Regions from separate parts of the Homo sapiens genome. Here region 1 is linked to region 2. Evidence: fine-mapped expression QTL. A gene starts in region 2. The other region holds a variant in brackets. All regions are shown on one strand. Distances are between the middles of the regions.

Region 1 (16,351 bases), 50 kb before region 2:
CAGCTACTTGGGAGGCTGAGGCACGATAATTGCTTGAACCCAGGAGGTGGAGGTTGCAGTGAGCTGAGATCGCACCACTGAACTCCAGCCTGGGTGACAGAGTGAGTCCCTGTCCCAAAAAATAATAATAATAACAATAATAAAATTAAAGTGGATCCCCTGAACATTTTCCTGTGGAGGCCTTGAGGCCTGGTGTGGCTGTATGTGCAGTAAGGAAGTAATTAAGATTAAACGAGGTTGTGAGGGTGGAGCCCTGGTCCCACAGGATTAGTGTCCTTATAAGAGGAGACATCAGAGATGGAGGGTGGTCTCTCTCTTTCACCTGTATGAGAACACAGCAAGAAGACTGAAACCCAGGAAGTGGCCCTCACCAGAAACCAACTAGGCCAGCCCCTCGACCTTAGAGTTCCAGCCCAGAATGATGAAAAATAAATGCTTTCCTCAGTCCCTAGTCTGTGGTACTTTTGTTGTGGCAGCTGGAGCTGACTAATACAAGGGCTAAGGGAGGAGGCCGGAGCCCATTCCAGGGAGGTGCAGCCCACCTAAGACATTTGGGTAGTGCATGAAAGGCCTGAAGGGACGCGTGGGAGAGACAGAGGAGAGCAGAGCAGGGACTTCAGATGGAGGGCAGCCTCCTCTCCAGGAGAGCCCGCCTGCCCACTGAAAGTTCCAGTGCCCACTGGATCAGGAAGAATCATTCTGCACATCTCAGCAGCCAGTTCAGGCCTGCATGACTAGAGGCCACTGGCGTGCACTCCTTCTTCCTGAAGCCCTCCTGGCAGGCCTGCCCCTCCATCCTGGGAGTGGATTACTCCCTTGAGGGCACTCTGCAGCAGCTTCGCCTGCTGGTGTGGACATCTACCCAGGCTGGGAGGGCCCTTCCAATGTCTCCTCCCAAAGGCCATGCCCACTGCTCCCTCTGTGAGGTCTGTCAGTGGATGTGGTCAATTCTCCTAACTATCTGTCCAAGCCTTGGTGAACGTTGATCACAGTCTCCCAAGTGGATGCTCTGTCTCACCACAAGACTGTGAGCCCCTCAAGGGCAGCAAATGAATTTAATTTGTCTCTGAATTATTGGCCCTTAGTATAGTTTCTGTCACAGAGGAATGGACATAAGTATTTGTTGAGTTAACAAGTAAATGAAGGAAGGAAGGAAAGGAGGAAGGAAGGAAGGAAGGAGGGAAGGAGGGAGGGAGGGAGGGAGGAAGGAATGAAGGAGGGCAGGCAGGCAAGAGGGAGGAAGGAAGAGGTGGAAGGAGAAACAAAGGAAAAAAGGAAGGAAGGAGGGAGAGAGGGAGGAAGGGAAGGAAGGAAGGGAGGGAGGAAGGGAGGAAGGAAAAAAGGAAGGAGGGAAGGAAGGAAAAAAGGAAGGAAGGAAGGAAGGAAGGAAGGAAGGAGATGATAGATTAAACCAGGCTATTGACCCTCTAAAAATACTCTCTTATAGCATAAGGGAGCAAGAAATCAAATGAAAATATTCCCCGGGGCTTGGAGTCCCAATATTAAATCACAAGTCAAGGAGATTTATGCTGCCTTTTTGTCCATGTGTGTTTTCGTGGTATAAAGCCTGAAAATGGGTTTACTTCACGGTATCCACTCAGAATTCCCCACTTACTGGAATTAAATATTTCAAACAGAAATACGAGATAGTTAAACGTGACTTAAGAAGATGTAGGAGGCAGAGTTGTGGATTAGTCTTGGCTGTGTGACCTTGAACTTGTCACTTGGTCTTTCTGAGTTGACTTCACCATCTGTAGAATAAGGGGAATGGCTCTTGCTGTATTCACAGCGCTGTTTGATGTGAATGTGTTTCACAAATGCCAAAGGGCTCTGTAAATGTGACAGCATTTTTATTTCTCTATTTGGCATTAATAAATAGTAAACACATGAAGGAGACTGTAAGACATTTCCCTCACTATATCCCCAAAACATAGCAGAGACTCCAGCACAGAGTGGGTCCTTAGTAAGTGCTTGGGGAACAGAACTGGGGGCTCTATGTGTGTCTGAATGTGTAGGCATATTATCCGATAATATAGACCTGGATATAGATACAGATAAATACAGACACACACAGGATTCTCATTGCCATCTCATACTTACAAGGGGGAAGTGCACTTCCCTGGCAAGGTAAGCAGCCTTAGAAGGGTCTAAGCCCCACGATATTATGACATGGGCTGGGAAATAATTCAGACTTTATATTATCTCAAGTAATAGACCTAGTCCTGGTCAAGAGCATCCCTGCCAGTCACTGCCATTGTCTGAACTCACACATACTTTTACCACACCCACAGTGTTTGGCCACACTCGTCTCTAAATTCTAACTTGTGGGAAGGAAGAACTGTCTAAGAACTCAATGTCTCTCAAAGCCCCCATATATCCCTTCCACTTGATTCCCTTCCCAAACTGGAGCATGCATATGAACAAAATTGAATTCTGCCCATTAATTTGAAATCATTCTGTACTGATATAACATTTCAACCCTGCCAAAACAGTTTCTATTTCTGAGTAATTCTTTATTCCAAATTCTTCCAATTGGCATTCTTTTCAAAATGCTGGGCTCCAGTCTCTGTGGAGGACTGCAGACTGCATATGTCCCCAAAACATCTTTGCTTTCTTCAAAACTTCCCCAAGAACTCTTGTGGCACCATCCCTGTTCCATTACTCTCAGCAAGTACCATCTTCTGGATCCTTTCACTTCCAATTTGAGTCTGGTATTTATCATTTTTGTTTGGAATTATTTTCACCACTGGGAGACAAAAAATAACACCTTGTTCCATGCACAGAAAGAAGCCATAAAAAATAAAAGACACATAGAAAAACCCACAATAAAAATATTCCTATTGGTTCTCCTGATCTTCTTCCACCTTTGCTTTTCTCCAAATAAGTGGCTCTCCCTGCCCTCATGAACACTTGTTTTGGGGCAAGTACATTGGGTTAAGTAATATGAAATTTATCAACCAAACCAGGGTACTTTTGGGAGTTAAGTTAGTTATTATTATTAACTACACCAGAATAACAGACATAAAATGAGACTGTTCTGGACACATCAGAAAATATGTTCAAGGCAGGAATAAAATATGCTGTTATTAGGACTTCTTTAGGTGCAAGTAACAGAAACCCAATATGAAGTAGCTTTTAGAAAAAAAAAATGTATAGATTTAGTATGTTATTGGCTCAGCATTAAGGTGGATTCAGTCACATCAATATTCCATGTCACCAAATTCATTTTATCTTGCCATCCTTCTTTCCTTTGTTTCTCACTGCTCAGCGCCTTCTCTCCTATTGGATACAGACTTCCTCCACGTATCAGGGGAGATAACTGCTCCATGTCCCAAAAGGAAAGCCCTCTTTTCCTCTAGGAAAAACCCTGAAATGAACATAGATTGTCCTATCTTGCATCACCTGCTCACCCCTGGAACACATGCCTTCATCAGGGGAGAAGACACCATGATAGAGCAACTCCAATGTATGTTGGTGGAATGAAGAATTTCAAACAAAAATAATTATGCAGTATGGACTTAATAAACTGGATGTAAGGCAATGTTTCTGAATAGTGATGAGGGAGAGGAAAAAAATTACCAATCCACATCCTACAGATTCAGAAGACTATTTATTCTCCTAATTTTCCCACTGTGTAGATGAAGAAACTAATGCCCAGAGAGGTTGAGTATCTTGCCCAAGATCGCACAGATAATCAATGGAGCATCAGGGAATCACATTTGAACCCAAGACTCTCTGAGGTGGGGCATTTAGAGCTTTCTCTTCTTCCCCTGCCTTGCACTGCCCTGATTGTGAGACATAACTCTTTCTTAGTCAAGACTGACTTTGTTTTTAAGCAAGAGAAAAGTAACACAGACTCACTTGGGCAGAAAGGAGGATCAGTGGCTCATAATCCAAATGTAGGGTGTCCATGGGTACAGGCATAATAAGGGTGGGGAGGGCATCAGAATTATCTCTACCTGATTCTCCCCACACATTAACTTCACGGCCTTAGAATATCTGTTTCTATGAGGTTGAAACCATGGCTACCAGCAACTCCTGGGCTCAGATCCTCACTGTTTAGAGATCAGAGTCCTTTCCCTCTCTCCCTTCCTCCTACTTACATGCCCCATGCTCAACTGGGGTTCGGATCGGCCCAGTCTGAGTCATGTGTTCACAAGCAACCAATCAGATGGCCAGGGATGTGAGGAGCTATGATTAGTCCAACTCCAGTCAGGTGCCCACCATTTAGCCAATCACTGTAGCTAGAGCTGCAGGGTCAACGAAGAATCAGGAAGGTTCTATCAGGCCAGTAGGAAAATGGAAGGAACTTAGTGCACACTATAGATTCTTCCCAAAATTAGTCAAACTGGCTCTCAAATAAGAAATTTGGGAAATAAGTGTTTTAGAATCATTTTGTCTGCATACAACCATATCTCCAACATGTTCTTTCTGAATGTGTTTTTGCCCAAATTCTGAATTTTTACTTAAGTGCAGTTAACTCCTCTTCATGTATCTCAAGGCAAGTTGTCTGTTGAGCCAATATTTAAGGATGGTGTCAGCTGTAACCTTGGCTTTTTCCATACGTCCTAAATTTTGCAAGGGCTCCAGGCCCTTTAACTCTGTTGCACAATAGAACTTTGGGTAGCATGTCTAATAAGTGAAAAAAACCTTCTAGAGATAATGGGGCAGTATATTTGAAACTGCAGCTGCAGTGGAAACCCTGGGCTGAGCTTCAAGCAAAATGTGGCAGAATAATATTTCTGAAATATAAACTAAAAATTTTTTTTTTCCTGAAAATTCTTTCCCCAACCCTCTTTGAACAGCCAGACTTTTCTTGTGCTCATTGCCTCAGAGGTAGAGAACATCAAGGCCAGAATATAATATGCTGCTTGTATTTCTCTGGCTTTTGTCTTCCAAAAGCCCAGATCCTTAGGGAAACAGTGAAATAAACAAAAGCATGAAGGGTTGAAGAAGTTACAACTCTCCCTCTTTTGTCTCCTGACCTCAGCCTAAGGGGAGAAGGAAGGAAGGATGATGCGAGGGAGAGATAAAGATGTGGACACTGCTTTTTATTTAGTGCAAACAGTACCTTGACAATGTGATTAAGGTCAGCACCATCCGTGATGCCATGTAGATACCATGTGCCCCATGCTCTGATGGGATAAAAAGGGCACTTAAGTTTTGTTGTCTCCTCTCCAAAAATCCATAGGCCCAGTCTAATCATGAGAAAATCTCACACAAACCATGACTGAGGTGCATTCTACAACATACCTGATGAGTCCTCCTCAAAGTTGTCAAGGTCACGAAAAATAAGGGGACTGAGAGATTGAGGAGACTGAAGGACGTGGTAACAAATGGCAATGGAGTAACGTGGATTGAATTCTGCAACAACAACAAAAAGACATTAAAGAAAAGCTTGATGAAATTCAAGTAAAGTCTAGAGTTTTGGTAATAGTAATTTACCAATGTTAGTGTCTTACTTCTGAAAAATAGACTAGAGAAATGTAACATTAAGGGAAAGTTATACTTGGCAAAGGGTATATGGGAATTCTCCATATTATCTTTGCAACTTTTCTATAAAACTAAAATTATTCCAGAATAAAATGTTTGTTAAAACAATCAAACAAACAAAAACAAGAAAAGGGACTATGCCTCCAACCCCCACCTAGGTTTATGGAATCTGAAAATAGAGACAAGTTGGGCCTGTTTTCTATGTGGAACTCCAGGGAAATGTGGAACTCCAGAGAATAAACGGCTTCGTGGAATATCTAGGCCTTCATTGAGGGCCCTGGTCAGCCTCACCAACTCTCTGCACTCAGCCTGACCACAGAAAGATTCCCCTGAAACTGAGTGGACAAGAGGTAGAACCCATCCATGGAATCAAGTAAGATGCAAGGAGAACATCCAAACCTGAGAAAGAACAGAGGCTGGAAGGAAGAGAGGCTCTCTACATTGACTGAAATTGAATTGCCCAAAAGAGAAATTAGTCTTAGGAGGAAAAAAATATGTATAGCTGTATTCTACCCCCATGTGAGTTTGTAGAGTAAGCTTTGCATTTTCTGTAAAAAGAAGACAGAGGAAGAAGAGGAAGGCAAAAAAAAAAAAAAAAAAAAGATCATTCATTGCACACTTAGTCTATGCTGGGGATAGGTCAGCTCTATGTACATGTATTGGTTTTCTATGGCTGTGTAACAAATGGCCACAAACATAGTGGCTTACAATTCCTATTTATTATCTCACAGCTTCAGTAGGCCAGGGGTCCAGGCACAGTGCAGCTAAGCTCTCCACTCAGGATAGCATATGCTGAAATCAAGATTTCAGTTTTCTGTTGCCATAAATAGTATGTTTATTTGGCATCTATATTAGTCCATTTTCACACAGCTGATAAAGACATACTCAAGACTGGGAAGAAAAAGAAGTTTAATTGGACTTAGAGTTCTGCATGGCTGGAGAGGCCCCAGAATCATAGCAGGAGGTGAAAGGCACTTCTTACATGGTGGCGGCAAGAGAAAATGAGAGAGAAGCAAAAGTGGAAACCCCTGATAAATCCATCAGATCTCATGAGACTTATTCACTATAATGAGAATAGCACAGGAAAAACCAGCCCTCAAGATTCAATTGCTTCCCCCTGGATCCCTCCCACAACACGTGGGAATTCTGAGAGATAAAATTCAAGTTGAGATTTGGGTGGGGACACAGCCAAACCATATCATTCCACCCCCGGCTCCTCCAAATCTCATGTTCTTGCGTTTAAAAACCACTCATGCCTTCCCAAAAATTCCTCAAAGTCTTAACTCATTTCAGCAAAAGTCCACAGTCCAAAGTCTCATCTGAGATAAGGCAAGTCCCTTCTGCCTATGAGCCTGTAAAATCAAAAGCAAGCTAGTTACTTCCTAGATACAATGAGGGTACAGGTATTGGGTAAATATAGCCATTCCAAATGGAAGACATTGGCCAAAACAAAGGGGTTACAGGGCCCATGCAAATCCAAAATTTAGCAGGGCAGTTAAATGTTAAAGTT[C/T]CAAAATGATCTCCTTTATTCCAGGTCTCACGTCTAGGTCATGCTGATGCAAAAGGTGAGTTTCCATGGTCTTGGGCAGCTCCACCCCTGTGGCTTTACGGGGTACAGCATCCCTCCTGGCTGCTTTCACAGGCTTGTGTTGAGTGTCTGCGGTTACTCCAAGTGCATGGTACAAGCTGTCAGTGGATCCACCATTCTGGGGTCTGGAGGATGGTGGCCCTCTTCTCACAGCTCCACTAGGCAGTGCTCCAGTAGGGACTCTGTGTAGGGGCTCTGACTCCACATTTCCCTTTTGCACTACCCTAGCAGAGGTTCTCCATAAGGGCCCCACCTCTGCAGCAAACTTTTGCCTGCGCATATAGGCGTTTCCATGCATCTTCTGAAATCTAGGCAGAGGTTCCAAAACCTCCATTCTTGACTTCTGTGCACACGCAAGCTCAACACCATGTGGAAGCTGCCAAAGCCCGGGGCTTCCACCCTCTGAAGCTACAGACCAAGCTCTACATTGGCCCCTTTCAGCCACAGCTGAAGTGGCTACAACAGGGGACCAAGTCCCTAGGCTGAACATAGGAAGGGGACCCTGGGCCTCACCCACAAAACCACTTTTTCCTCCTGGGCCTCTGGGCCTGTGATGGAAGGGACTGCCATGAAGTTCTCTGACACGGCCTGGAGATATTTTCCCCATTGTCTTGGGGATTAACATTAGGCTCCTTGCTACTTATGCAAATTTCTTCAGCTGGCTTGAATTTCTCCTCAAAAAATGAGTTTTTGTTTTCTACTGCATCGTCAGCCTGCAAATTTTCTGAACTTTTATGCTCTGTTTCCCTTTTAAAACAGAATGCTTTTAATAGCACCCACGTCACCTTTGGAATGCTTTGCTGCTTAGAAATTTCTTCCACCAGATACCCTAAGTTACCTCTCTCAAGTTCAAATCTCTAGGGCAGGGGAAAAATGCTGCCAGTCTCTTTGCTAAAACATGACAAGAGTCACCTTTGCTCCAGTTCTCGACAAGTTCCTCATCTCCATCTGAGACCACCTCAGCCTGGACCTTATTGTTCATATCACTATTAGTATTTTTGTGAAAGCCATTCAACAAGTCTCTAGGAGGTTCTAAACTTTTCCACATTTTCCTGTCTTCTTTTGAGCCCTCCAAACTGTTCCAACCTCTGCCTGCTACCCAGTTCCGAAGTAACTTCCACATTTTTGAGTATCTTTTCAGCAGTGCCCCACTTTACTGGTACCAATTTACTGTATTAGTTCATTTTCAGGCAGTTGATAAAGACATACCTGAGACTAGGAAGAAAAAGAGGTTCCACATGGCTGGGAAGGCCTCAGAATCATGGTGAGAGGTGAAAGGCCCTTCTTACATGGCAGTGGCAAGAGAAAATGAGAGAGAAGCAAAAGTGGAAACCCCTGATGAACCCATTGGATCTCATGAGACTTATTCACTATCACAAGAATAGCACAGGAAAGATCAGCCCTCATCATTCAATTACATCCCCCTGGGTCCCTCCCACAACACATGAAAATTCTGGGAGATACAATTTAAATTGAGATTTGGGTGGGGACACAGTCAAACCGTATCAGCATCCATTAAAATCATAAAATCAAATTAATGGGCAAAGTTACTTACATCTTCCCCGTGATCCAGTTTTTGCAGATGAATGAAAATAGTATTACAACCCTCTCAACATAAACCACAGCATCTGTGTTTTGAGTTCTGCCCAATAGGGGACATTGCCATCTAACAACTATCTACCACTGTCCTAACAGAGGCTGTGGTCTAAGCTTTTGCCTCGCTCCTCCTTCTGCTTCCTGACCAAATCTGGTGCTTCCCCACTTGGCTTGTGGTGTGGCAAGCCTCCTTCTCTTGGGAAATGTAAGTAGTAAATTCTTCTTTCAATGGCATCAGGCTCTCCATGTCATCATTTAATTACCTCCCAAAATCAAAATCCTGTGGGTACATTTTAATACAGTCTGCTGGCCAAAGTCTCAGTTGAGGCTGGATTTTCTCCCAGGTTCACATGGTTATTGGTAGAATTCAGTATCTTGCATCTAAAGGATTGAGGTCCTTGTTTGTTTTCTTGCTTGCTGCCAGCAAAGAACCACTCAGCTCATAGAGGCCACTCCCAGATCCCTGCCAAAAGGCCCCCTTCATGGCCAGTTCACAATGTGACTGTTTTCTTCAAGACCAACAGGAGAGTGTCTGCCGCTGCTTCCTGTCTCTTTCAAGGGCTCCCCTGGTCAGGTCAGCCCCACCCATGATAATATCCCTCTTGATTAATTTAATACAAGTGATGAGGGATATCAGTGTCATCTGTAAAGCTCCTTTTTCCATAAAATGTAATTTAATTGAAAGGAGGAGCTAGCCAGAAAATGTGCACCAGAGGGCTGGGGGCTTGGGGGCCATCGCTGATTTGTTTCCACAATACACCTTATTTCATCCATTCTCAGAGTGGTTCTGTGAGGTAGGTAGCATTTTCCTTCCAGTTACAAACATGTTAGCGAAACAGGGTCATATTGTGCAAAAGTAGTTGTGGTTTTTGCATTGTTGAAATTTGCCATTAGATATTGGAATACACTCTTACATGAATGTAGTTATGCTATACATCATTTTAATGGACATTTCTCACTTCATGTTTTTTCACTAATGACGTATTACTTGCTCCTTATTTTATATTTATTTTAGACTATGGGAATAATGTTAGACAAAAAGCAAATTCAAGTTTTTTTTGTTTTTTTTTTTTTTTGATACTGAGTCTGGCTCTGTCACCCAGGCTGGAGTGCAGTGGTGTGATTTCGGCAACCTCTGCTTCCCGGGTCCAAGTGATTCTCCTACCTCAGCCTCCCGAGTAACTGGGATTACAGGTGTGCACCCCCATGCCCGGCTAATTTTTGTATTTTTAGTAGAGACGAGGTTTCACCATGTTGGCCAGGCTAGTCTCGAACTTCTGGCCTCAAGTGATCTGCCCACCTCAGCCTCCCAAAGTGCTGGGATTACAGGCATGAGCCACTATGCCTGGCCAATTTTCTTATTCAAGTTCAAAATGGATTGTAAAGCATCAGAGACAACTCGCAACATCAACAACACATTTGGCCCAGGAGCTGCTAACGAACTTACACTGCAGTGGTGGTTCAAGAAGTTTTGCAAAGGAGAAGAGAGCCTTGAAGATGAGGAATGTAGCAATCGGCCATCAGAAGTTGACAACCACCAATTGAGAGCAATCATCAAAGCTGATCCTCTTGTTACAACTACGTGAGAAGTGGCCAAATAACTCCACATCGACCATTCTACAGTCGTTTGTAATTTGAAGCAAATTGGAAAGGCAAAAAGCTTGATAAGAGGATGCCTCATAAGCTGAGCAAAAATTTAAAAAGAAAGTCATTGTTTTGAAGTGTCATCTTCTCTTTTTCTATGCAACAACGAACAATTTCTGGATCAGATTGACATATGACAAAAAGTGGATTTTATATGACAACCAGCAATGACCAGCTCAGTGGTTGGACTGAGAAGAAGCTCCAAAGCACTTCTCAAAGCCAAACTTGCACCAAAAACAGGTCATGGTCACTATTTGGTGGTCTGCTGCTGGTCTGATCCACTGCAGTTTTCTGAATCCCAGCAAAACCATTACATCTGAGAAGTATGCTCAGCAAATTGATGAGATGCATCAAAAACTGCAATGCCTGCAGCCAGCTTTGGTCAACAGAAAGGACCCAATTCTTCTCCACGACAACACCCAATGGCACATTGCACAAAGTTTCAAAAGTTGAACAAATTGGGCTACAAAATTTTGCCTCATCTGCCATGTTCACCTGGCCTCCCAGCAACTGACTACCACTACTTCGAATATCTTGAAAACTTTTTGCAGGGAAAACATTTCCACAACCAGCAGGATGCAGAAAATGCTTTCCAAGAGTTCATTGAATCCTGAAGCTCAGATTTTTACCCTACAGGAGTAAACAAACTTATTTCTCATTGGCAAAAATGTGTTGATTGTAAGGTTCTTACTTTGATTAATAAAGATGTATTTGAGCCTAGTTATAATGATTTTTGCACCAACCTAATATTTAAACCTGAGAAAGATTTGTAATTCAATTTTATACATATTATTGGATACCTACTATGTGCCAGACACTATGCTAGACTAATACAAATCCCTTGATCTCCAGGGTTTCATAATCTACTATAACAGGCAGCTATGTCTTAATGATAGTGAATATCAACTAAACAATGTCCACATACCATCTCTTTAAGGGACAAAAGCATGTGAAGTTGGTATTTATTCTTATGAGCTTTCATTTTACATGTGAGTAAACTGAGGCTTAGAGAGTTTAAACAATGTTCTCAGAGTTGCACATGTCATAAATTCTGAAGAGGGAACTTATGCTCAGAGCAGTTCACCTCCATGGTTCATAAGTTTAATAAATATGACATGCTGAATCTCAATACAAAAATTCTTGTCTCATATTCAATAAGAACTGCTAGAACAGAGACTGAGATCAATGGTAAAATGAATTTTTTAAGACAACTAGAGAATACAGAAGAGGTAATGTTTTAGTCCATTTGGGCTACTATAACAAAATATCATAAACTGGGGAGCTTATAAACTACAGAAATTAATTTCTTATGGTTCGGGAGGTTGAGAAGTCCAAGATCAAGGCACCTGCAGATTCAAGGTCTGATGAGACTGCCTTTCCTGAGTTGCAGTGGCCACCTTCTTGCTCTGTCCTCACATGGTGAAAGGGATAAACCAGGTCCCTTGGGCATATTTATAAGGACACAAATTTCGTTCATGAGGGCAGAATCACATTCTATGAGATACATAGCATTTTTTTAATCATACTGACATACGTTTTAGTGAAACAGAGGCCTATATTTAAATCATCTCCATAAAGGTCCCACTTTGGGGTAGAATTGCAACATATAAATTTTGGGGGAACACAAGTATTCAGATCATAGCATTCTGCCCCAGCCCCCCACTCAAATTTATGTCCTTCTCATAGGCAAAATACATTATTCCCTCCCAATGGCCTCAAAATTTTTAACTCATTCCAGTATCAACTGTAAAGCCTAATTCCAGCGTCTCATCTAAATATTATCTAAATTAGATATGGATGAGACTCAAGGTAGAATTTATCCTGAGGCAAATTGCTCTCCAGCTGTGAACCTGTGAAATCAAATAAGTTATGTGCTTCCAAACTCCAATAGTGGAACAGGAATAAGATAGACATTTCCATTCCAAAACAGAGAAACAGGAAAGAAGAAAGGGACTACAGTTTCCACAAAGATTTCAAAACCCAACAGGGCAAACAGCATTAAATCTTAAGCCTCCAGAATAATCTTCTTTGACTCAACGCTCTGCCCTTCAGGCCCGCTGGTCAGAGTTCCCACCTTCCAGGAACATTAAGGCAGGGGTTGGGTCCCCAACACTCCTGGTGGTCCTGCTCCCATGGCTTTAGTGTACCTCACCCCAACAGTTTTGCTGAGTATAGCCCATGCTGCAGTTCTCATGTGTTGAAGTCACATGCTTGTGGCTCCCACAGTCTAGAATCACAGACAAGTAGCTCCACTGGTCTAGAGTCCTGGGACAGCTACACCCCAGATCTCTATTAGGCACTGCCCTGGTGGGGACCCTTTAGTGACTCTGTCTCTGCAATGGTCCTATGCCTGGGTCATGTGCCCCAGGCTCTAGGCAGCTTCATTCTTTAAAATTTAAGTGGAGGTAGCCGTACCCCTGCAGCTCATGCACTCTATACACTGATGAATATGGCAAAACATGGACATTGCCAAGGTTTGCCTCCAAGGTTTACTGCCTGTACCCTCGGGTGAGGCAGCCACAGTGGCCTGTACCACACCTGGGCTGACTGGATCCACACCTGGGTCATCCAAGGAGCACTACACCAAAATGCAGGAAGCAAAGTATTTAGGTGGCCCTGGGAAGCTGATGTCCTGCAGGCATCCTTGGCTCTTCCTCTTAAATCGAATTGCCTCTAAGGCCTTTGCACTTTAGGCTTGTGTTAGTAAAAGCAGCAACAATAATCGACAAAATGCCTTCATGTCATTTTTCCATTTTCTTAATGAATAGCACCTAGCTGATTCATACTAATCTTCTTATCAAATGGTCACCTGGACACATCCTTGGTGTCCTCTCCAGAGCATGCTTTCTTAATTTTACAATGGGGACAGACTGATAATTTTTCAAACCTTTAAGTTGTACTTCTCTTTTGATTAAAAATGTTATTTTTAAGTTGTTTCTACCTTCTCACATCTTAGGATAAGCAGTCAAGAGAAGCCATGTCACACCTTCAACATTTTGCTTAGAAATTTCTTTTGCCAAATTTCCAAATTTATTGTTCACAAATTCTATCTTCCACAAAACACTAAGATGCAAATATAATACAGCCAATTTCTTTGCCACTTTTTCACAAGGATGATTTTCTCTATTGTCCAATAATGTTTTCCTCCTTTTGGTCTGAGACCTAATCAGAACGATCTGTACCATCTATGTTTCTACCACCATTCTGTTAACCACCACTTAGGTATTCTCTAAGAAGCTTGAGGCTTTCTCTAAAGCTCTTCTCTTCTCCTTTTGAGCACTCACCAGGATCATCCTTAATAGTCTGTTCTTAAGAATGTAGGCTTTTTTTAGTAGGCACTTCACAACTCTTTTAATTCCAAAGGCAATTATCTATTTTTAGGTATTGGTTACAGCAGCTTACCCATTTCTCAGTACCAGTTTTTGTCTTACTCTATTTGGCTTTCTTTAACAAAATGCCATAAACAATAGCTTATAAGCAACAAAAATTTATTTCTCACAGCTCTAGGGGCTTGGAAGCCCAAGATCAAGGTGACAACGGATTTGGTGTCTAATGAGGGGCCATTTCCTGGATCATAGATGATGATTTCTCATGAAGCACTCATGTGGTTGAAGGGGCAAGGCAGGTCTCTAGGGGCTCTTTTATAAAGGCACTAATCTTATTTATGAGGGCATTGCTGCATGACATAAAAGGCCCACCTCCTAAAACTATCACCTTGGAGATTAAAGTTTCAACATATAAATTTGGAGGCACACAGACATCCAGATCATAGCAAAGCACATTTCACCAGGATTGGTAACTATCTGATGTAAGAGATGAGATTGAAGCTGGACCTTAGTGAATTAGCAGGACTTCCACAGACAAGGATTCAGAGAGGCAGCAAAGAGAAAAATTTGAAGGGCAATACATGCAGAAACAATGGCTGGAGGGGTTGGTGTTCAGGGGTGAGAGAGGATGTATTCTGTCTCTTAAATCTATGTGTCTCAATTTAGGGACAAGATGGACTGATTCCATTGAGTATCCATCTCAGCCCTAAGGAAAGTTCGAGACCTGGTAGGACATGACACATTCCAAAAGATACAGGGTGCAAAATTAGTGCCTCTTTCTTGAGGAGTTCAGAAACCTTTCCCAGAGGAGTGCTTCTCAATATTTTGCCCTCCAAGGGACATTTTATAAGATATTTCTGGAGACATTTTTGATTATCACAAGTGGGAAGGTGAAGATGGTACTACTGGAATCTAGTGGGTAGAAACTAGGGATGCTGATGAATTTTGCAGATTGAAAGTTTGTGTGCCCCCAAATCCATATGTTAAACCCCTAACCCCTCAATGTGATGGTATTAGCCAGTGGGACCTTTGGAAGGTAATTAGGTTGAGAGGGTGGAACCCTCATGAATGGCATTAGTGCCTTTATAAGAAGAGACATAAAATCGTTCTCTCTCTCTGTCTCTCCCCCCACCCACCCCCCCTTCTCCTATGTCTGCATACCAGGAAGCCAGCCCTCACTAAACACCAGATTTGCCAGCACATTGATCTTGGACTTCTCAACCTCCAGAACTGTGAGCAAGAAATGTTTTTTCTTGCCATCCAAACAAGATGTATATTTGTTATAATAGCCCAAATAGACTTAGACAAGCCCTAAATTTCCATAGTGCCAAGGTCAAGAAACTCAGCTAGTGAGCCCATAAGGAATGTTTCTCAATCAGTTAGTACTTTATGACTTTGAGTAGTGATGGAAAATTTATGTCATTAGGCTCAGTTCTTAGTCTGTTTGCGATAGGTCCACAAGTGTGCATAATCTTAAAATCAAACCCAAAACATAGTTGCAGATTCATTCAGTAAATTCACAGGATGCCTGCTCCTTGCCCAGTATTGCTCCAGCTGGAAAGGTGGTAAACAAATTCCAAGACCAAAGAGCACACACATCTCGTGTGTAAGAGTAGGGAGATTTGGTCCTGTAGCGACAAAGGTCCTCCAATTTGCCATCGGCAATATGGTTTGCTCACTGTGAGTCATGCTGCCCTTGCTAGGGTGATGGCTGGAATGATTAATCCACCCTGTTGGGGCCTAATCTCCTTGGGCTCAGTTCCCATCTGATTCCCACCCGAGTTCCATCAAAGGGAGGCCTCTATCAGCTCATTCCCCATGCACGAAGGGGGTGGAAAAGGGTGTGGTAGAGAACATGCTCAAAATCTGCCCTCTTAAAAGGTGCAAGACCCAGCCAATCAAGAGGATAAGGTGCCCTGTGCGAGCCCTGAGGAAGATGGGCTCAGTGTTAGCTCTGGAAGGTGCCAGCCTGTGTAGGCAAGTCTGACATGAGAGTTGGCAGAGCCCTGGCCCTCAGGCAGTCAGCCTGAGACAGCCACCATTCCAGGATGCCTTCCCTGAGGTCCTCAGCAGTGTTCCCACAGTCTGGGGAGGGCCTCTCAGGGAGGCAGGAGTTGCACAGGCTCAGCCCACCACTCTCCTAGGGTTGCCTCTGTGACCCTCCCACCTTAGGGGGCCAGGCTGGGCAGCAAGAGACCATATAGCCTGCCTAGGATGCAGGTGGGATGAACACCCAACCAAGTCCTCATCGAGGCAGGCCATGACTCTGAAAAGTACAAACAAGCAGCTTATTCATTCCTTTATTCAAGATAAGTATCTACTTAGCCCTACTTTATAAGTGCTGGGAACTCTGCTGGGTTCTGGAATGTAGAAATGAGCAAAGTGTGCACGTTTCCTACTGTCATGGAGCTTGCAGTCTAAGATCCACAAGCCACCAAGACAAACCCAGAATCCCATGAATTATTGATTATTTATCAGACCAGCACTTATGTTCATCAGGCTAATTTTGTTGGCACAGCATCCCTCCAAACATCCCAGGTGACAAGGATATGAAGAAAGAGAATTTAGGGAGATTGGGAGAACACCCATGCTCACACACATGCCACTGGCCGGGGCCCGAGTGGGATTCGAACCCAGTTGTGTCATTGCTTCCTTCAAGCCCCACATCCCCATCTGATTCATCCTGTTATGAGCCTTCTTCCTT
Region 2 (16,351 bases):
TTGCATCTTTAGTCCAGGAGTTGGCGAATTTCTTCCACCAAGGGCCAGAGAGTAAACACTTTAGGCTATGCAGCCTTATGGTCTCTGTTGCAAGTACTCACTTCTGCTACTGTAAAGCACTAAAGCAGCCATAGACAATGAACGCTTCTGAAACTAATGAGCACGCATCTAAAAACTGGAAGATGCCACAAAAATACAATTCATTTTGTCTCAGAAAACTGGAATATGAGGCTTCCAGGGCTGTTTTCTAACACAGTGGCAATGACCAAGGGTTGGAGCGGGCCTGATCATGTACCTGCTCACCAACATTGCCCACCCAGCTCACATGGGCAGCTGAGTTTGGGAACTTGCAAGCATCAGGTACTGTAACCACCACTTTAGAACCATTACCTCTAATCCTTCACCAACTTATAAAGTTAGTGTCAGCATGACTATTTCACGTAAGAGGAAACTGAGGCTATGGAGTTAAGGTGACATTTCCAAGATCACACTGTTGATAAGTTGCTGAACAAAGGTAAAACTGCTGGAAACAAAAGTAATTTTTTAGAAGGTTCTGGGAGAATTGTTCTCTTCCCTCCTCTTTCCAGTCCTCTTCCTTCTGATCTGGACTCCAATGTCTCTCTTTTTGCCGAATCTCTTTAATTTCTTCAGGAAATAACTCCCAATGTGAAAGAAGAATACACATTGCCTTTTCTCTCTCTCTCTCTAAATGTAATTTTCTTGTCTTAGACGCAACAAATTCCTTTAAGAGTGGAGATAGTGCCGTAGGTTTCCTTTATTCCCCCAGACAGCTTATCATAGCCAGAGCAAATAATAGATCCTAAATAGAATCAATCATGGTGGTGGTGTGGGGAGGGGGTTTTTTAGCTTTAGCATCTGACTTGAACTTATTACTAATAAGATACAATTAGATCCCGGGAACTAACTCCTCAAGCAAGAGATCTGAGATGAGAACCAACAGGAGAACCTAGGAAAACAGATTCACGCTATAGCCAAAGGACCCACACAAAAATCCATGCAATCTCTGCATAGTGGGAAGGATGGAGGAGTTGGAAGACTTGAGTTCAATGCCCAGATCTGCTGGAACACACTCCTGCTACTTGCAGTGTGGACGGAGTCCCAGCAGCCCGAGAAACACCCAGGAACTGGTTAGAATTGATCATTCTGGGCCCCACCCTAGAAGAACAGAATGAGAATTCTTAGAGGTAGGCCCAGGAATTGGTATTTAATGATCAATTGGGGTGATTCTTAAACACATTGAAGTTTGAAAATCACCGACTGCATGTTGCTATCTCTGGGGGAGCTTTGAACAGCAGTATTGCATGGGTTGGTGTTGCCAGATTTAGCAAATAAAAATATAGGTTGACCCAGTTACATTTGATTTTCAGATAAACAACAAATAATCTTTTACTGTAAGTATGACCCACATTCTGTATTACTCCGTATTTTTTATTGCATCCCAAGCCCTTTTCTACCCTCAGGGATTCTCATTTCATTGGTCTGAGTGAGGCCTGGGCTTTGGGATGTTGAAAGTTGGTGTGCAGCCAACATTGAGAATGGTGACCTGAGACAAGCCCCCACCCTGCCCCATTCCCTCCTGAAGGCTTCCCTGCCTCACTGTTTCACCTAGATTCTAGCTCTGGGGTTGGGGAATGGGGTGGCAGTGGAGGAAGTCAATTTTCCTAGGGTGCAGCAGGTTGTGGATATTGAAAATAGGCTGGAACCATCAAATAGGAAATCCACTATGAAGATATGTCATGATTTCCTTTATTCCACAGCTGAGTACAAATTGCCACTATTTTCTTCAGGAGAGGCAACAAAACCCTATCACCCAAATACCTAAGAAATCAAAGGTTCTCAATAGCAAGTTACATGGGCCCTTGGGTGGGAGGTGGGGAGTGTTTGGAGGAAGGACGTGGACAATCACACATAACACTGTGATTTGAAATTTACTTGAGCACTTAGGCTAATGAATCAAGTGAACTTAATCACCCCAGAAATCCAGACTCTCTTGATATGTTCTCCATCTCTTGGAGGCTGAGACTCTTATTCCCAATATCTCAGGCTTCTAGAGGAAAGTGGAGCAAGGCATGGGTGGGAGAAGCTCAGTAAACAAAAGGGCATTTCCCCCATGGCAGAATCAGCTGCTTTACACAAGGTCTAGTCTCATGGTTTCTCCAACGGCCAGGACTTGTTGCAAGCTGAAGGTTCTCCTCCCTGGGACAGGAACTTGGCCAAACATGTTGCTCCATTCAGCGATATGAAAGAAGTCATTCTCTCTTTGGGGAGAAAATTTTCTCCATTTACCCAATGATCTGTACCTTACAGGACTGTAGAATAAAATTCCAGCCTGGAGCAATCACAAGATTTCAATCATTGTATTCAGAAGTACTAATGGTATGCAGGGACTTTTTAATACAGGGATCTATTTTTTACCTTGGATCAACCTGAAAATTCATCTTCTACTTTTTAATTCTTTTTGTCCTATTTTTTCTAACCCTTCTGCTTAAATCCTTCTACATATATAAATATACTTATGTTGCCGTCCCTTTCAAAGTATTCTATTAGTTCTATTTCTTGAGATGCCCATTCTTCAGCTTGCTGTGTCTAACTCCCTATTCAGTATCTTCTTTCCTAGTGCAATTTCATGATTTTCTATTGAGTTTGTCTTCCAAAGAGCTTTGGTTTAGTTTTGCTCTGTCTTTAAACCTATCAGAATTCCATGTGGCCCAAGTTTGTGAATGTGTTACTAAAAATAAAATTTTGCATTTCTTTCTGCAGGGACGCTAGACCTGTGTCTAGTGTTTTTGACTTCAATTCTTACATCACAAGGGCAATGTAAACTTGGACCCTCCCTGCGTGCATTGTATGAGCTTGTAACTGATTTCTCATGAGAGGCATTTTTTTCCTACCCAGAAACCAAGCCACAAGAAAGCTTTCTCGCTGCTTCTCTTAGTCTATCAGGTCTTTTAAATGTGCATGTCTCATGCTGGGGATTCAGTTCTGGTTCCCACCATATACAGATTCAAAGCCGCATCTCCTGTCTTTCTGTAGGCAAGAAATTTCAGACCCAAAGGCCTATAATCAATAGCTCTGAAGGACAGTATGGTATCAGCAAACTGAACTTTCATTTCGAGTACCTAAGCATTCCCTTTCTTTGAGTTTATGTGTTCATTTTAAAATTTATACTTCTCCAGTATTTTTGTGTATTTGTATGAAGAAGGTGATGCTTATTGGTTCAGTCTGCCATGTTGTTAAAACCAGAAGCCTGAAAGTTACTCTTGCAACCAAAGAGCCAGAGACAGTGAATTCTTTCCAGTCCACTCAAGAATTGTTGGCAGCAAAACAAAGGATATGGATAAAGAGTCTAGGTATAGATCAATACAATGTAAAGAGCTGTGGTTGTGATTTTGCAGAGATGTTCAAAAGCTACTCAGACAAAGTAAAGCATGAAGCAGACAATTCCAACAGGGTCCTGGCATTTTGTAATTATAATCAATTATACATGATAATTGATCAATAGCTATTTCTGCTTAACAAACTATCTCAAAACTTTTGGCTTAAAACAGCAATCATACCTTATGATTTTGTGGTCAGGAATTTGGATAAGGCTCAGCTGGGTGGTTCTTCTGTCCCACATGATGCCGACAAGGGTTGCTGAATGGTGTTCTGCTGGTGAAGGGCTGGACTGAAGAATCTAAGAATGCTTTACTCATATGCCTGATACACTATCTGGTTGGGTCAGCTGGGATTGTTGACCAGAGCAATAACATGTGGCTTCTCTTGCATGGTGTGAAGATTCACACTTCATACGTGGCTCAGGCCTTTAACAGAAAGTTTCAAAAGACAGGAAATGGACACTGCCAGATGTTAAGTTCTCATCATCTCTTCTGCCCTATTCTTTTCATTGAAGTAGTCACAGAACCCATAGGAGGGGTCTTTTGGCAGGAGATGTACCTAAGAATTTGGGGCCATCTTTCACCTGCCGTGGTAAGGCAGAGTGCATGGGCTCTGAAGCCAGGCAGAAGCATGGAAAATGTTAAGCCTTTCTAAGCTCCTTCTTACTTGCTGACTCCAAGATAGTTTCTGAGCTTTTGTTTTCCTCATCTGAAAAAGGGAAATATTAATATGGAATCAGATTGAAATGTTTCAGCTACATTAAATAAAATAATGGTAACCTAAAAGTGAACGTCATGAATTTGAACAGAGAGAATTGGAAGAAGACAATCTTTTTTACAGATATTTGAAGAGGAAAGTGCTTAAATTCTGACTTAAAGATTGAGGACATTTTGCTCTTAGGAATAAGGAACTTGCTGCAAGAAAAAAATGCTTATCCAGTGATAGACTAATGTACAGTATATTAAAAATAAAACAAAAGTGCTACTGTGAAGAGAACCAGCAGATCATGGATGAAAAAGGAAGAAACATCTGGAACATCTGGGTTGAACCACCACAGGGATGATCCCCTTAAATGGTAACTTTTAGTGAAATGGTATTAAAAGTGAATGTCAGTCTCCCATTGCATTTTATTTAGACTTTGAAATATATCGGCCGGGCACAGTGGCTCGTGCCTATAATCCCAGCACTTTGAAAGGCCAAAGTGGGTGGATCACCTGAGGTCAGGAGTTCAATACTAGCCTGGCCAACATGGTGAAACCCCATCGCTACTAAAAATACAAAAATTAGCTGAGCATGGTGGCAGGTCCCTATAATCCCAGCTACTCGGGAGGCTGAGGCAGGAGAATTGCTTGAACCCGTGAGGCAGAGGTTACAGTGAGGAGAAATCATGCCACTGAATTCCAGCCTGTGTGACAAGAGCAAAACTTTGTAAAAAAACCAAACAAACAAACAAACAAAAAACCATATATATATATATATATATATATATATATATATATATAATTACACTTAAACTAAGTGTACAATAAATTATAAATAGAGCCCATCCCAGGATTTCAGTTACCAGCGCCTGATTGCTTTATGATGCTCAGTACAGCACATATTGATGAAGCCCTTCCGACATCACCTGCTGCAATGTGAGCTTTCTGTACATTTTAACACTGGCCATGCTGCTGTAGGGAGGGTTATCATTCAGCCTCGGAGATGCTAAGGGTCACACATCCAACTGTGTAGGCTTTATTTGGACCCAGGACAGATTCTCACCCATGGGCATCCTGTTCACACTTCACCAGGCTGGGCTAATTCTACCCATCTTCTCTCTGCCCTGAAGGACTTATCACATAGTTACACCTATGAGAATTTTCAGCAATCTCAGAATTACTTCCTCTGGAAGTATTTGCAAAAATGGGATAATGGTAGAGGCACTAAAACTGTTCCTACACTATAAAGCCAGCAACTCTCCTGCTTATAAAATGCAGCTGGGGTAGGAATGGTAAGAATAAGATAAAGTGTAAGGTCTTTCACCTCCAAGGCACTTGGACATTATATCTTTAGACTCTTTGTTATATTGACTGCATTACTCCCAAATGCTTTTTAGAGGAGGGGGGACATTTAGAAAAGTGAATTTCTTATGATCAAATCAATATGTTGTGGTTTATGACAATTTTATACATTTATGGCTAAGAACCTATCTGCAATCACTTCCTAGACAAAAGTTAATCATCTTAGAATTTAAAAAAACATAGTTTATTTTTTACACAATTTCTGGGATTGGATTTCCCAACATGCAGCCCAAACACCTGCTCAGAGCACAGGTAAAACAGAAGTCTCACCTCAAAGTCAGCAATTTTTAGAAAAACTTGACATACAAAAAACACATAAGAGCTGTTATGTTGGACATTCTTGCTGTAATGGCTATATATATATATGTAATTATTATTATACACATACACACTCACGTTTTTCTTTTGAGTCAGGGTCTCGCCCTGTCATTCAGGCTAGAGTGCAGTGGTGCCATCACTGCTCACTGCAGCCTCAACCTCCTAGGTTCGAGTGATCTTCCCCACCTCAACCTCCAAAGTAGCTGGGGCCACAGGCACATGCCAACATGCCTAGCTAATTTTTTTTATTTCTTATTTTTGTAAAGATGGGGTCTTGTCACGTTGCTCATGTGGGTCTCAGACTCCTGGGCTCAAGCGATCCTCCTGTCTCAGCCTCCCAAAGTGCTGAAAACTACAGGCGTGAACCACTAAACCTGGCCTGTTATATATTAATTTTAATTTAAAATACCCATGAAAAGGGGAGTAGGTTATTTTCAGTACTTAAGGTCCGAATATCGTGGGCTGCTGGGCTGGGGCTCACGACCCATCCGCAAATAACACAGAGGCAGACACAGAGAAAATCAGACATTGAGGCTTTCCTCACCTGCCTCTGTCTCCCTCCATCTCTGCAACTCTGCAATGCCCCAAGCAGGAGTCTGCTTTTTTGTATAATGGGCAACCCAATCTTGGCAGGAAACCAAAAGTCAATTTCCAGGAAAGGCAGAAAAGAGGGCTATAAAAACTAGAGGACCTCTGTGGCCTTGTGGTCACCTCTCCTCTCTTGCAAAGACACAGCTGTCACCAGAACCCCACGTCTCCACCAGCACAATGCCTCTCAAGATGCTGTAAGCGCCTAGGGAAAGCCAGCCTGCTAAAGGACGCACATGTGCGCACACACACAAACTTCAGGATGGCCATCAATTCAGTTCCTCCTTTACCAAACACTGTGACATGCCTTTCCCCTCTTCTCTCTCTCTCTCTAACCAGCCTTTCTCCCCCACCTCTCCCCCTTCACAACGCCCAGTTTTATTAGTATTATTATTCTCTTAAGTGGCACATGTAGTACCACTTCCTGCTCCATGAGGCCCCGCCGAAAGCGACGGAAGCGCGCCCTCCTCGCCGTGACATCTGTCTTGGCGGCAGCCTCCTCAGGCGGTTCTCTTGGCAGCCTCCACGCTGCCACCAGGCCTGTCGGGTGGCTGTACGGCTGACGGGCTGTCACCGCCGCCTCCTCTTGCGGGCTGCCATTTTCTTTTGATTTACCTTTGATTCGGAGGCATTTGCATGCTTTCATCACTTGGTGGACAAAGTCCTCGGCAAGTCTCCCATGGCTGCTTTCTGTGTAGGCAGCCAGGAAAGGGGCGGATCCCTCTGTGACTTTGCTTTGAGGTGTAAATGGAGGCCCGGCTGGCCTATGTCACGGGGAGCCCGGAAGCGGGTGTAGACTGTCACTTCCCAGCTCCCCGGGAGACGCTATGTAGTTGCTCCTCGCTTTGGCTAGGGAGCTGCTTCGCCAGTGACAAGTGTCCCCCGTGTCAATTAGTTTATTAATCACCCAGCTAGACAACTTGGTAATGTGGTAATTTCAGGGTTAGGCTGCACCGAGTTCTTCCTTTTCTGGCTGGGCATAAGAGCTCGTTAAAGGACTTCCCCTGCTCTCCAGAAAACTCTTTCTCTGCCTTTGTGCATATCCCAGTGAAGCCATTCAAAACTGCAACTCCTCTTCCCCGGCGTGCGGACAGGAGGGAGGACAGGGTTAAATTGCTAATCGAGGTTTCGTGAGGTCTGCCAGAGCCGAGTCTCCAACACTTACATCTGTTCAACAATTATTACAGCATTTTTGTCATAAAAAATTCAACACCCTGAGTGTCGTGCTAGCAAAACCTGAAAATTTATGCAGTGAATAGAATAGCTAATTTCTCTGAGGAAATGCAGGAGGAAAATTACAGATTTTACTTAAATTCCAAACACCAGAGTGCACACATCTGACGCCCTCTTTGGATTTTTTGTCAACCACCGGACCGAAGACGCCTTCCCGTCCACCAGGAAGCGGGGAAGACCCTGGACACATGCTCTGACCTTGGAAGAAGCCGTACTGTGAAACTCCAGACTGATCTATGCACCCACCCAGAGTGTCTCTAAAAGACCTCTCTCCCAATTAAATCCATGCGTGGTACAGAGTCAGACTTCGATTCCGGAGCGAGGTTAGCGTGATTGGTTTGCGTTTTTCCCACTCCCTTCTTCCAATTTGCCCCCCACGCCTTTAAAACAGCTCCTTGGAGAAAACAGAGGGGATGGAGAAGAGCCCCGACAGCATCGAGAGTCTTAAATCTCCTTAATTCATTCTAATGCTGTTTGATGCTTGCAACGGCAGCATTGGAGTTTGCCTCTCTGCTCCATAAAGGTCTGGAATATGGATTTTATGCTAAAACTAAAGCTGTCTAGTTAGGATGCCAGCAGAGTGGAACAATATGCTACAGGCGATCCTCAACTATTCTCCAGGGCCGGAGCCTGACTTCCCGACTGGGTGTTTGTTACCTTAATCATCATTGCAGCGGGATGAACAGGAATTTCTTGCACTGCCACCACAGTGGCACAATTAACGTTATCCGAATTTTCAGAGATTCTACTGCAGAGAGAGGATACTTGCTCCCCTCTGTTAGTGACTGCTCCAGGGTCCCTGTTTATTTTCCCTAGAATGAGGTGGTCAAAGGAACCAGCTGCCCTCTGCCCACTTACTCTGTCTCATGACAGCTCAGCATGGTAAATATTTTCTCTGTAGGGTCTCACATCTCCTGACCATCTCACCTCAGGGCTGGGGAGCACAGCCACACGCCAAGAGCAGAATCCATCACTGGCATTTATGTCTTAATAAAAGCGTGTGCCATTTTCAGATAAAGTAAACACTGCAGCCATTTCCTCTTGCCAGTAGAGGTTTTTCTCTCTTTCCTTCTGAGTCATACCCTTCTAGAAGGTGCAATGTGCCTTCAGAAGAACCCAAGGAGGCTGTGATTCAGAGGTTCCAGAAACAGACACAGCTCTCCAGGCCCTGTGAGTGGCAGTGACAGAATGAGGAGTCCTCCACCCCCTGCAGCCCAGCTATGCCTCAGGCACAGAGCACCCACCAGAAGGAGGATCAGCTCCACCTGGCTCCCAGGCAAACCACGTCCCCAGGCACTGGTGTCACGGCCCAGGTGCTGCCTCTGGCTCTGTCCCACATGGAGGCCTCCCAGTGGGTCACATCCCAGCACAGTCCTCCTGCCTGATATCACCCCCAATCTGTCCTGGGGCTGGAGAGCTCTGAGGAGGGGACCTATGAGTGCAGTGTTTGCCGGCCAGGGCAGAGCCTAAGTGACCCCATGTGAATCCTACTGTGACCCTGCATGGAGACAATCAGAAAAATAACACAGACACGAGCCACAACCACACTGCTGTCAGAACGTCCCAGGCTCTCGTCCCAAGCACTTTGTCTGGCTTAATTTTCAGAACCGCCCTGTAAAGTACATATTATCATTCCCTTTTTCTTGCTGATGAGTCCAGAGTTCAAAAAGATTAAACAAATTCGCCAAGACTGCCCAGCAAGTAACCAGTAGGGCCAAGATCAGATGTCAGACAGGTCAGATGCAGAGCCCCTGCCCTCTCCACCGTGCCACCCTGCCCTTGAGGCAGCTTTCCATTTGAGAAGTAAGTTTAGCACGAGATGCACGACAAAACTGGTAACAGGGCAGACCTGAGGAATGAGGTATGTCTGCATGTGGGGGGGACCATGCCTGTGCAGCCTGCTCTGCAGAGGAGAAAGGTGGAGACAAACCAGAAGGAATGGGGACTTAGCTTGACTTGAGAGAATTAGGCTTTGAGAGGCATCACTTCCAAGAAACGGTTCTATTGCCCTCTTCCTCCTCCATAGCTGTGGTTTTCTAACCATGTATCCCATAGAAGAGAAGTTTGAGGTCCATCATGGTGGAAATGGTGCTGCAAAGCTCCCTACAACTGCAGCATTGATCTTCTCTGATTTATGTTACATGACAGATCTTGATGTCCAGGCCGCAGGAACATCCACCCCAGCGAGATCCCTTTTCTCGACTTCCACCAGCTGTTTGCCAGGAAAGAAGGTCTCAGAGCCACGCTGTATCCTGACTGCCTCTACAGCAGGTACCTTGTACCTCCACAGCAACACAAAAGGATTGTTTCTGTTTCCACACATACCTCATGTCATTTGTTGCCACATAAATTCTCCCTAAGCATAGTGGCTGAATGAAAGCAACTAGTATGTATTGCCCCACAGCTTCATAGGTCAGGAATATTTGGGCACAGCTTAACTGAGTCTTCTGTTTCAGGGTCTCCCGCAGAAGGTAGCCAAGGTGTTATCAAGGGCTGCAGGCATCTAAGGCTTAACTGGGAACAGAATCTGCTTCTGAGCACACTCACGTGGTTGCTGGCAGGAATCAGCTCCACAAGGACTGCTGGACTAAAGGTCTCAGTTCTTCACCAGCTGGGAATCATCCCCATTTGCTTGTCCTATGGCCCTCTCCATAGGGCAGGTCCCAACAGGACAGGAGGATTCATCCTTGTAAGCAAGCAAGGAAACAACAGGAGACAGGTTGCACTCAGGACAGAAGTCATATCTTTTATAAACTAATCTCAGAAATGATATCCCTTCCCTTTTCACATATCCTGTTAACTAGAAGTGGGTCACTAGGTCCAGCCCACGTTCAAGAGAGGTGCTCACACAAGGATGTGAATACCAGGAGGCAGAGATCTTGGAAATCACCTTACAAGTTGTCTACCTCACACCTCAACCCTACCCTTTAGAGTGGACAGTTTTCACAATGCCGTGGCCTCATCTATCACTGGGAGGCCTAGAAAGAACTCTTTCAATTCTCTTGTGCCAGGAACCAATTTTTTTTTCTCACCTTATGGGTGGTTTCTAAAGACACCAAAATACCTGCTCCTCTTTCTCTACAAAGTCTCTGCCATTACAATGACCAAGAAAATGTGCTGTAGCGTCATAGCCCTTTACTAAGCCCCTGCTACAGATCAGACACTGAACTAGACCTTGAAATATTTTCTCTCAATCCCTAAAGCAGGCCTAAGTGGCAGCATTTATTGAATGAATGAGGACTCGGAGGCTCAGTGAGGGTAAGGAACGTGCCCAGTGCCATTCATCCACATATGTAGTGGAGTCTGAATTCAACCACAGGCTATGTTTTGTCCATTCAGCCACAGACTCCCAAAAATATTCCTGAAGCTTCATTTCAGAGGAATTACACATTCATTCTAGGTCTCATTACATTCAAAGAAATTCTCACACATGCTACTTATATGGCAACCTAAGGTTTAGCGTAACCACATGCTCTGGATTTTTTAAGTGAATTATGCCATTTTATTCATTCAATAAAACAATTCTAGAAACACACAGATAAATATGAATTGCTTACGTTTATTTGAACCATATGGCATTACCATTGCTAGTGGTAAAAATATCAAATACCACTAACTCTATAGGGTTTAGTCTAATGTATTTTTGCTCATATTAATGCTTACAGATGGACAAATGAGTCTTTCATATTATAAATAATCTTTGTCTACACAACAAACTTCTATAGACTTAAAAAAAAAAAGAAACAAAAGTTTCCTCTCTCTGTAGATACCAGCATATGGCAAAAGGATCAATACTGACAATATTTAATGAGCATCTCTGCTTGGACCTTTACTATTATATTGTATTAAATATTTACAACAGCACGAGTGTAGACACTGTGATCCCAACTTTTATACTGAAGATGAATCAAGTTTAAAGAGGTGGATGATTTCCTCAAAGTCATGCAGTGAACTGACAGAATCAGCCTCATAACCTGCTAAATGTGCTTGATTCCAAAGCACATGTTCTTTCCATTCAATTTTTGTCTTACCAAGAATCACATACTGGGAATTTGCTGGAGGCCATGGAGTTCTGCCTGAGTTAGCTTGCCCCTCTGTGCTGTTGAAACACACATAAACACCGAAATACCAAAGCAATTATGGCCACTGGAAACAAAGCCATCTCAAAGATAAAGTGCCCGCTCTCTATTTTAGAGGTGACCAAGAAAAGATTGTCAGTGACTCATGGGTGAATTCTGAAGAAAAACAACTTGACTAGCAGAAGAAGACAGGAGAAAATTTCCAGCTATGCAATCTGCAGATCCCTTTAGCACCTTGGTGGCTGAACCACTGATTATAAGTCCTGGTGATAATGTCTACCCTTTTGAGTACCTTTATTTATTTATTTATTTATTTATTTTGGAGACAGGTTCTCACTCTGTCACCCAGGCTTGAGTTGAGTGGCACCATCTTGGCTCACTGCAACCTCCACCTATCAGGCTCAAGTGATCCTCCCACCTTCCCACCTCAGCCTCCCAAGTAGCTGGGACTACAGGCAGGTGCCACTATGCACAGATAATTTTTGTATTTTTTGTAGAGGTAGGGTTTTGCCACATTGCCCGGGATGGTCTCAAACTCCTGTGCTCAAGGGATCCGCCCCCCTCAGTCTCCTAAAGTGCTGGGATTACAGGCATGAGCCACTGCACCGGGCCTTGGGTACTTTTGTAACCTGCAGAACTACCCCCAGTTTCACGTCTGCTCGTTGATACCTTCCTCTTCTGCAGCCATTTAGAAGGCTAAAACTCCTCATTGCCAAATAATGAAGAGGAGTAAGAATCAAAGCTAAGAGGACTCTGCATACTAAGACATAAGGAAAGCACAAACTCAAGAAAACTCCAAGACAAGCACTGGGAGCAATGAATTTGACAGCATGTAATTCAAATAAGAAGAGTCATAGATTTCTCAAATAATCCCAGGGCAAAATTTTATCCAGGAAAACTGAATTGAGGCCAGAGTCTGACAGGATCATTTACCTGCATTATACCTGAAATTTGTCAACACACTTTACATTTCAATGTGGCCTCTGGATTAAAATCCAAGAAGATTATTTTGAAAATAGTAAAAATAATAGTGAGGAGAAACTCAATCCTTATTTAAATAATAATAAACATAAATAAAAGCAAACCATGCCCAAAGCAAGTATAAAAATGGGAACCAGCATTGTAAACACATAGATGAAGAGCATACCAGAGAAAGGGATTTGTTGTCAAAAACGGAAAACATTTTATGAGGTATTTGCTTTGTGTTCTTTCTAAAATATAATAAAATACATAAAAAAAGAGGCATAATAAGAAATAAACTATTTTTAACGTAGCAGGTTCAAATGAAGCCTGAAATTTAGGAAGGGATCTGAAAGAAATTATGAAAGAATCAATAATAGCTCATACTTACCGGGAGCTAACACAGTCTCAGACATTGTTCTATGCAGTTTACATCTATTAGCTCAGTCAAATCTTCAAACACGTCTCCACATTGGCTTTTTGATAAGGAGACTGGGACACACAGAGCAGTTAAATATCTTGGCCAACTCAAAAAAACTACTAAATGGAACAGGTGAGATTTAAGCTCAAGCAGCCTAAGCCTGCACACTCAATCTTCACATGGTACTGGTCTAGAGAACCAAAGAACAGAATCTATACAGCAGAAAATTAAATCAGTAAATAGAAAGCAAACAAGAAGGCTTCCAGGTATTTAGAGCAAAATCAGAAAACTACAGTCTATAAGCTTAATCTGTCCCACCACTGGTTTTTGTAAATAAAGTTTTATTGGAACACAGCTATACTCATTTGTTTATGTGTTGCTTTTGTATTTCAAAGGCTGAGCTGAGTAATTGCACCAGAGACTTATGCCCCAGAAAGCTGAAAATATTTTTTATTTAACCTTTCACAGAAAATGTTTCCTGATGCTTAATTTAGAGAAAGAAGACACAGAGATACAACTTATGTGAGAGAAGATGAAGATATGGAAGACACAGTAAAGAGGCAGTGTGTGAAGAGAGCTGACATTTCAGAGGACATGACCAGGGCCAACAGAGTAACTGGTTAATCAAATATATCGAGAAGAATTCAGAGCTGAAAATATCTGAGTTCGTTCCTCAGAAGGGCTCAAATTATTCCAAACAACCATTTTCTAAAGAAACTCCTGTCTGAAAAGAATTTTGAATCTCTGGGGAAAAACTATTTTTAAAAATTGTGAGAATGGCAGTAGGATGAACAGATTATTTACAAAAGAAAAAAATGTGGGTAATCTCAGACTTCAAAATTGTTCATATCAAGAGTAAAGTGAAATACAGTCTAACGAGTTTTGAGAAGAAAATTACTCAATAATTTTACACCAAAGGGATGATTTGTAAAGGAAAAAGAAAGACACTCAGCTATGCAAAAATAAAAAAAAGTATACTACCACTATACTCATGTTAAAAAATGGGATTGCAGATATACTTGAAATGACTCAGTAATTAATCAAAATAAACAATTCAAGAAGAGAGAAAGCATGGTTCAGGACAAATAGTAATAAGTGTAGATCACAACTACTAAATACTAAACATAAGAATTAAGTCCAAATCGGTTCAGTAAGTACAGTAAGAAAAACTACAATTGAAAAATTAAAATATCACATTAAAAAAATATATAGCTTACAAACAAACCATCTCAAGAAGAGCAAAATAAATCTAATGACAAGGGAAACTAAAAAATAAATGCAGTTAAATCATATATAAATTAATTATAGACTGAGAAAATAGTGTTAATAAATAAATGTAAGAGCTGGTATTTAGAAATGTACAACACAACAAATAAACCACTATTAAATCCAAATTAATAATGTCACAAATAAATATGCATATTGGATGTGGGAAATTAGATACAATATAAGTTTATAAATTAGAAATACAGATGTGCAGTCCTACATAAAGACATATGTAAAGAAAATCTAATGAGATAGATAGTTTTCTATTTACTGTTTAATTTTTTGTTGCATAGATTCTGTTCTTTGGTTCCAGAATTGGAAAATTCCGGAAAGTTGAAATAATAAAAATTTGTCCAAGAAGAATTAGAAAACTTTTGTAAACCTATAGCCATGGGGAAAATATGGAAAAAAATCTTTAACATAATTATATCCCCAAAAGACTCCTAGGCCAAGTAATTTTGCTAGTTCTATATAACTTCGAATAATAGACAATTATTATTACTTATGATTTAATCCAGAGCACACATAATAATGTAAAAATCTTTCATTCATATTATAAAGACACTTTACACCCATATCAAAAGCTAGCAATGGATGGGACAAAAAAGAAAACCAGGTATCTAAATTACTCATGAGAACACAGGCATTATCCTAAATCAAATACTAGCTAACTGAATTCACATACACATTAAGAGAATCCCAGGTATTTTATTAAGAATATAAGGAAGGCGTAATATTAGCAATCGATTAATTCATCACATCACATTAAGATGTCAACGTTGAAATAAACTATATAAATGATTCCATCTTCGTAGAAGCCAAAATAAATTTTATAAATTCAACATCCATTTCTTAAAATATATATATTTTGAAGCGTTTAAACAAAAGTCTGTATAATATGCAATGCTTGTATTCCAGATACATTCCCATTCAAGTTAGGACAAGGACAAGGGCTCCAGCCCCAACCATTCATCCTTGGCATTGTTTTGTACATTCCAGATATTTTATAAGACAGGAAAAAATAAATTCAAGTTATACAAAGAAGAAGAGTACTCATTAATCATCCATTACCAGTGATATTATGAATCAGTAGACAATATATCTAGAATATCTTACATAGTTAACTAAAAGAAAATATGTATAGCTTTAAGCCAGTTCAATAAATTAACCAGACAGAATATCAATAGCCTAGTCAAAACTGGGTTACATGAGCCATCTTGGCACACATCACTTTCAGAAGAAGCACAAATACAGCATCCAAAAAGAACCAAAAAATGTTAACATCTTTACTATTATGCCCCCAAGAAATGTCGGTTTTATATTATATTACACAAAGGAAAACTTCTACCTAAGGTAGGTGATATTTAAATTAAAGTTAAAATAAATAAATAGTAGGACTTGTGGAAAACGTGGATGAATACTGAAATAAATTCTGGGCCAGTAAAAAGACTCCCTAAATGTAAAACACGTGGTATAACCTGCTATGATCTGAATGTTTATGCCCTTGCAAAATTCACATGTTGATATCCTCACTCTCAAAGTGATGGTATTAGGAAGTTGGGCCCTTAGAAAGTGACTGGGCCCTGAAGACTCCACCGTCATGAATGAGATTCGTGTCCTTTTAAAAGAGATACTAGAGAGATCTCTCACCTTTCTACCATGTAAGGTTACAGTGAGGTGGCCTTCTGTGAACCAGGAAGAGAGCTCTTCAAGACACCAAATCTGTCTGAGTCTTGATCTTGGACTTCTCAGCCTCCAAAATTGTAAGAAATGAATTAATTTTGTTTGTAAGTTTATGACGTTTCGTTGTAGCAGCCCAAACGGACTAAGAAAAAACCCTTCACAAAATTGGTCAGTACACCTGGCCAGATAAAAGTTTAAAACTTTCTCTGTTGAATGCCATCATCAACAAAATTTAAAATGCAATGCAAAAAAACAAAAGAATGTTTGCTACAAATATCAGGAGGAACATTAATAGCCTTTAGACACAAAAATATCCAACAAATTAAACCCACACATGAATA

The links.
Region 1: its variant is fine-mapped to the expression of LINC02325 in whole blood (INTERVAL, PIP above 0.99).

The regions. Positions count from the first base shown.
Region 1 is chr14:97,499,268-97,515,618 of GRCh38, reverse strand. LINC02325 (long intergenic non-protein coding RNA 2325) reads right to left here. Exons shown (of 5, transcript NR_110166.1): 2 at 5,254-5,364. Among named protein-coding and RNA genes, the nearest start is that of LINC02325, 49 kb to the right of the region's middle. The variant C/T (reference allele first, on the strand shown) is at 7,004.
Region 2 is chr14:97,449,560-97,465,910 of GRCh38, reverse strand. LINC02325 (long intergenic non-protein coding RNA 2325) reads right to left here and starts at 7,095. Exons shown (of 5, transcript NR_110166.1): 1 at 6,984-7,095.